Linked DNA regions of Homo sapiens. The protein of the gene in region 1 purifies or fractionates together with the protein of each later gene. This does not show direct contact. Each region holds a gene or a part of one and is shown on either strand. Other genes may lie near its edges.

Region 1 (3,192 bases):
AAAAACTTGGTGATTCAAAGTATGACTCTGTAAACCTGGTCAAGTTCCTTAAACGTTAGTCCCCTCATCTTTTAAGTGTGTACAATGTCTATCACATTGGATTGTTTTAGGAATTAACTAAGTTAGGTCCATGTTGTTTGTTAGTGTCTAGCAAAATTGTAAACACACAATGACTGTTAGCTATGATATCTGAAGGGGTAATTATTAAAGGCTTGGTTCAATTTTAGGCTCCTTTAAGGAACAGTGGATATACTGAGTAACATTTGACGGATGCTAGGAATGAAGTTATATTCTTTTTCTGTTTAATTTCAGATGTACTGGCGAAGAATATTTGGTAAAGCAGGGCATCGATCTCTCACCCTGGGGCTTGTGGAAGAATCACGTGGCCTTGGCTTGTATGATTGTTATTTTCCTCACAATTGCCTACCTGAAATTGTTATTTCTTAAAAAATATTCTTAAATTTCCCCTTAATTCAGTATGATTTATCCTCACATAAAAAAGAAGCACTTTGATTGAAGTATTCAATCAAGTTTTTTTGTTGTTTTCTGTTCCCTTGCCATCACACTGTTGCACAGCAGCAATTGTTTTAAAGAGATACATTTTTAGAAATCACAACAAACTGAATTAAACATGAAAGAACCCAAGACATCATGTATCGCATATTAGTTAATCTCCTCAGACAGTAACCATGGGGAAGAAATCTGGTCTAATTTATTAATCTAAAAAAGGAGAATTGAATTCTGGAAACTCCTGACAAGTTATTACTGTCTCTGGCATTTGTTTCCTCATCTTTAAAATGAATAGGTAGGTTAGTAGCCCTTCAGTCTTAATACTTTATGATGCTATGGTTTGCCATTATTTAATAAATGACAAATGTATTAATGCTATACTGGAAATGTAAAATTGAAAATATGTTGGAAAAAAGATTCTGTCTTATAGGGTAAAAAAAGCCACCGTGATAGAAAAAAAATCTTTTTGATAAGCACATTAAAGTTAATAGAACTTACTGATATTCCTGTCTAGTGGTATAATATCTCAGGAATCTTGGCTGAGGGTTTGGAACTGTGGGTAGAGTAGAGGGCCAGGAGTCCAGTAATAGAATTCTTGCACCATTTCTGGAACATTCTAGCTCTGGGAGGTCACGTAACCTTCTTGGGGTAGTTCAGTGGTTTAGTGGTTTATAATCCAGGTGTGCGTCAGAATCATCTGAGGAACTTTGCTAAAATACAAAAATCTGGCCTAAGTAGCTCCAGATCTACCTTCATAAAGGAATCTGACCACTCCTGGATTTGGTAATTTCCAAGTTCTGAAAATTTTACTTAGGATTTAATAACTATTAACATCTGTCCCTACATAGGTTTTCTTTCCTACTTATATACCTTATGTTCTCTTCATTCTAACCTTCATCAGTAATAGGGAAATGTTTTAATTTTATTTTTTTAGTTGAAGGGTAATGTACCAAAAAATATAGTTCAGTGAATTAAAATGAACACACATGTGCAACCATCAATTCAGGTCAAGAAATAGAAGATTGTAGCACACAAAAGCCTACTCAGCCATTCTCCCAGTCACTACTTCCTTCCTTACCCCTGGGTTATTTTTGAAATGACACTTGATGTATTTCCCTCTGTTGCTGTTATGAGAACATTGCTACAGCCAAGTGTTGTGTTTCTGTGTGCATAGGTTGATACTTAATTATCTCCCCACTTTTTAATAAACTTTTAATTTGGAAATAATTTTAGATTGACAGAAAAGTTGCAAAGATAGTGAGGAAAGTTCCTGTCTACTCTTTGCTCAGCTTCCCTTAATGTTAACATTTTATATAGCAAGATGCATTTGTCAAAGCTAACAAGTTAACATTGGTACAATCACTGTTAATTAAACTGCACACAATATTCAGATTTCACCACTTTTCCACTAATATTCTTTCATTGTTCTAGGATTCAATTCAGGAGACCACATTTCATCTAGCCCTCTTTTTTAAAAGTAAATACTTTTCAGCACTTACAGGAGTTAACTGAGCTGGGGCATCATGGTGTATAGACGCCCTGACACTGGTCATCTTGGAATTCATTTAGTTTGTCAGTGGGTGCCCTGACATTCTGTCACAACATCAATTTGGGAACATGGCATTATATTTTTATCTTTGAACTTTTTTCTTTTTGGATGACATTTGATTAATGCGTCATCTTGGAACACATTATCTTTTTTCTTGGTTATGTGATCAGGAAGATTAATCAGTTTTTCCTGTTCTTGGTATAATTCCTGCTTTTCACATACCTGTCCCTTACAGTTCTCTATATATACCCTTCCCTTATTACACAGAGAGAAATATCTATCTATACTTTTTACACAAAATATACTTCAAAAGAAACAAAACAGCCACAATTATTAACTTTTTAAATAAATGAGAATTTAATTATATCCTATTTTATGTATTCTTTTTTTATATTAAAATTACCTTTATATGCTTTTGTTGTGGTAGGAACCAGATAACATAAAATTTACCATCTTAACCATTTTAAAATTAAGGACTTTTTTTTTTTTTTTTTTTTTGAGATAGAGTCTCGCTTTGTCGCCCAGGCTGTGGTGCAGTGGCGCGATCTCGGCTCACTGCAAGCTCCGCCTCCCGGGTTCATGCCATTCTCCTGCCTCAGCCTGTAATGGCTGGGACTACAGGCTCCCGCTACCACGCCCGGCTAATTTTTTTTTTTTTGTATTTTTAGTAGAGACAGGGTTTCACTGTGTTAGTCAGGATGGTCTCCATCTCCTGACCTCGTGATCCACCCGCTTCGGCCTCCCAAAGTGCTGGGATTACAGGCCTGAGCCAGCGCGCCTGGCCAGGAACTTTTTTTAAAGTATGGTTTATTTTCTTATAAAGTAGAAATGTACTTAAGGATATAGATATCCATATATATTATATGTACCCTATATATTATATATATTCTCTGTATTTTTATATCCTCTCTATATATTATATCCTATATATAATTTCTATCTATATAATTATATATATAATGTATATATAATTTATATCTTATATATGGGTATGTATATCCTTAAGTAAATTTCTACTTTATAAGAAAATAAACCACACTTTAAAAAAGTTCCTTAATTTTAAAATGGTTAAGATGGTAAATTTTATGTGCTCATTTTATGTTTTTTATATATATATATTCTTTTGATTTTAT
Region 2 (3,821 bases), on another chromosome or scaffold:
AGCCCCTCCGCAGCCTCCTGCCCTGGGCTCTTCTGACCCATTTGTACCTCTCTGGGATGAGGAGACCCCCCACCTCGCCGGCCCTCCAGGGCATTCACCAAGTGCAGGGTGTGGGTTCAGAGCTTCGAACTCAACAGGACCCTGCAGGCCCACAGCACTCCTCGAGGCAGGGCCCAACACCTGGCCCACTTTAGACACAGGAAACCGAAGCCCAGGGGTCACATGGGAGCTGGTGTGGCAGCCGGGGAACCCACACAGGTGGTCTGACTTTGGGGTCAATGCCCCTGAGCAAGACATGCTTTGGAGGACTGCTGGTACTTGGGGGCACAGGGGGTGTGGAGGCGGGTGGGCTTCTCAGCCAGAGGACTTGGACTCTAATCCTAACTTGCTATTTAGCTGAGAGAAACTACCCTAACCATGAGGTGTCCTCAACTAGGACATGGGGCCCACATTGCCTGCTCCACGTTGAGAGGATGCAGCGGGAAACATGTCTGCCCATGGCTGTGCGGGGCCCAGCATGCCGGGGGAATGTTGGGAAAAGGACTTGTGGGGTGCCTGTATAAACTGGCCATAAAAATAGGGGACAATAAGTTGTGGAAAGCCAGAAGAGGCCACGGAGGAGGAAAGCCTACTAATTGCCATCATGTTCCCATGCTCAGAGCGAGACCCGCTCTCCTATCTGTAAACACTGTGTTCAAGGAGAAAGACACTCCTTTGAAACACTGGGAAGTGGACAGATGTGCAGGCTCCTAGTTAAGCCCGCTCCCACCAGCTACTCTCCGATAAGTTAAAGACACGCTGTTTGAGCACAAAGGAGATTCATTTAAACTGCTATTGCTATAGATTATGCCTCCTATGAGGCACTGCCTCCCTTTCACTGTTTCGCCCTGAACATGTGCTTCTTAGAGCTAAGTGACTGCACTCAATAGTGTGGAGACCAGAACTCTGCGCCTTTTGCAGCCTCCATTTTGCAACTGGCCCCTGGCTCCCACCTTCATGAACTCTTAACCTGTCTCTTCTCATTCCTTTGTTGCCAGCAGACTTCGGGTACCCTACAGGTGGAGTTGAGGCTGGTCCCCAACAGGGGAAGAGGCCTGGGTGTGCAGCCCCAGCACGGCCCCCAAGAGGCACCTTTGATGAGGGTGTTGTATGCCTTGGCCCAGGAGTTGCGGTGGTTGGAGGTGAGGATGCCCACAGGCTCCTTGTTGGTCTGTAGGGATGAGTTCCAGATCTTCTCCAGCTGCACAAAGATCTGATCCGCAGTGAGGGGTGTCCCGTCACTGTGGTACACATCCAGCTCAAAAAACTGTTGGGGCACAGGCAGGTAAGAGGAGGGAGCTGAGTGGGGACCTCAGGCTGAGAGCAGCCACCTCCCCACACCTGCCTCCTCCTGGCCTTGGCCTTGGAGGGGATGGAGTCAGGCCAAGGGTGAGAGGGGGAGGAGGTCCTTGGATCACCCTTCTGGGCTGGGCAGGCCCACGGCCCCTCCTGGCCTCCCTGGGCCCCCAATGGAGAAGCCAGGGGCGCCCATTCCTGGGGCACGTGGGCACGTGTGCTGGGGAACCCCAGTGGGGAAGCCGACTGCGGCCGTCCGGCTGTACTCCTGCAGCAGGGCCGGGGCTTGTAGGTGTGGGTGGGGGCCACCCACCTGGTAGTTGTGTACCACGGTGATGTGCGTGGGAGGCTTCTTGGTCTTGCTGAAGTTGCTGACTGTGTCCTGCTTGGGGCCCGGCACTCGGCAGGAGGACAAGATCTGATAGTACTGGTTCATGCACAGTGGCTTCCCCCCCAGGTACTCCACGGGCAGGGTCTCGCTATGGGGTAGAGGGGCAGTGAGGCCACCACTGGGCAAGTGAATGGGGAGGAGGGCAGGGTAGACAGGGACCTGCTAGGTACTGCTGGGGGCTCACACAGTGTCCCTGCTCCCACTCCCAGATGAGCAGGACACCTCAGGGCTGTGCTGTGGGCAGGGGGCTCGCTTTCTGCCCCAGATGGGCCCTGTTCAGAAGTCATCTAGAAACTCCCTCCTTTCCCCTCTCTGGGCTTCAGTTTGTCACAGGGGAGATGAAGCAGCGAATAAAACTCTGGGGTCCTCTTTAGTTGGGATGGGACAGGGTCACCCACCAAGAGGAGATTCCAGCAGCTGGAGCAGGGCCCAGGGCCCAAGCTGGCATGCCGGGCCAGGGCTGGGGTCAGAGGTGGCTGTGGTAATTAAGCAGGCCTGGGCAGGTGTGGGGCTGGGCAGGGGTGGGGATGCTCACTTGTCAATCATGACCTTGAAATCCAACACACCCTCAATGAGTTTGGCAGCAAATCTGGAAAGATTGATTAGAGATTAGAAGCTGCGTGGACACCCTGAGGGAGGCCCCGGGCTAGGGACACCTGCTTGGGGAGCGGGAGGTCTAGTCTTCCAGCCTCTCTCACCGCTTCCAGAAAGCCTGGGAGCGCAAGGGAGGGGCCTGCGAGTCCCAGCTTGCCAGCCTGTGTGTGCTTCTTCATAACCTCTAGAGGGAGCATGGTCGGGAGGGCTCGGGGAAGTGCTGGTGGCCAAGGGCCTAGTAGGACTTGGGTGCTGGCCCCCTGCAGCTGGAGTGTGGCTTGGTTAGGGGTCAGTGGGCTGGGTCTACCCACAAAGGGCCTGAGCTCCTGAACCTCAGCCTAGAATCTGGAGGGGGTGTCATCTGCTCTGAAGCATCGGTTCTGGAGGCCCCGGGCCCCTGGGGTGGTGTGATGGGAGAGCAGTGGCTCCGGTGTTCCCTCCACTAGGTCCCTTCCCCACTCTGGGCCTCTGTGTCCCCCAGGCCGCCTTCCTCCCAGGGCTGTCTGGCCCATGGCAACCACCCTCAATGCTTGGGGCCGCCCCTGGATCCCACCATGGGGACCAGTGGCTGGAGTTCCTGGGCCTGAACCCCGGCCCTTCCCAGGGTACCCTGGTCCCTTTAAGAGAAGCAGGTGGTGGCAGCCAGTGGCTGGTCCTTGGGCAGGAGATCCTTGTCACTGGTATTTTTATCTCTGGTAGGACTGGAATAGGGGCTGGGGCAGGTGACCTGGCTGAATGTGGAAAAGAGGACTGTGTACAGAGGTCACCCCTGTGGCTAGCTGAGAAGAGTGGAAAGGAGAGGTGAAGTGCTAAAACTGGGGTCGGGGAGAAGCCTCAGGTATGGAGGAGGATGGGGCCTCTGCGAAGATGTGGTGGTTAACAGCCATGAGGCTTTAGAGCTGGAGAGACCCTGCTTCCTGAATGGGGTCTTGGGCAGCTCCCTTCCCTGCTCCGAGCCTCAATTTCCCCATTTGTAAAATAGGGAGGATGCTCCCTACTTCATAAGGCTGCTTGTGGGGCAGAAAGATAAACAGGGTCGGGGCCCCTCCAAGCGGCTGGGCGAAGTGAACTCGAGGGGCCCGGCTGCCTCCTGGCCCCCAAACCCCAGCCACTCACCGGAGCTGACCCTGCAGGTCCACGAAGTCCTGCTTGGGTAGCATCACGCCTGGGCTCGAGTAGATGACCACAGGCTGGCGGTACTGGAGGTAGGCGGTCTTGAGCCACCACTCAGACAGCTGGGAAAAGTGCCAGAGCCTGTCAGGAGGGGTGCATGGGCCCTGGTGCCCCCTGTTCCCCAGGGCTAGGGGACCTGGCTGGCCCCCATGCCCTCTACCTGGCTATGGAGATTCTCAAAGTAAATGCCTAGATCCAGAACCCACCCTCCCTGCCCCACAACTTAAACCCACCAGCCTCTTCCCTTTAGCCCGAGTGATCAGTATTAGCCAGATCAATCCGATGCTGCTGCTAAGAAAGGATGTGAAAGAAAGATCAGGAGGAAACC

What was found.
Region 2: the proteins of ABCG2 (region 1) and CRAT fractionate together in Homo sapiens (co-fractionation; one large-scale study listed by BioGRID). This does not show direct contact.

Annotation. Positions count from the first base shown.
Region 1 is NC_000004.12:88,089,502-88,092,693, reverse strand, and holds the end of ABCG2 (broad substrate specificity ATP-binding cassette transporter ABCG2), read left to right. Parts: intron 1-312; coding exon 313-460; 3' UTR 461-2,425; downstream 2,426-3,192.
Region 2 is NC_000009.12:129,100,752-129,104,572, forward strand, and holds part of CRAT (carnitine O-acetyltransferase), read right to left. Parts: intron 3,556-3,821; coding exon 3,437-3,555; intron 2,316-3,436; coding exon 2,262-2,315; intron 1,815-2,261; coding exon 1,649-1,814; intron 1,307-1,648; coding exon 1,132-1,306; intron 1-1,131. UniProt on the Homo sapiens protein: Catalyzes the reversible transfer of acyl groups from carnitine to coenzyme A (CoA) and regulates the acyl-CoA/CoA ratio. Also plays a crucial role in the transport of fatty acids for beta-oxidation.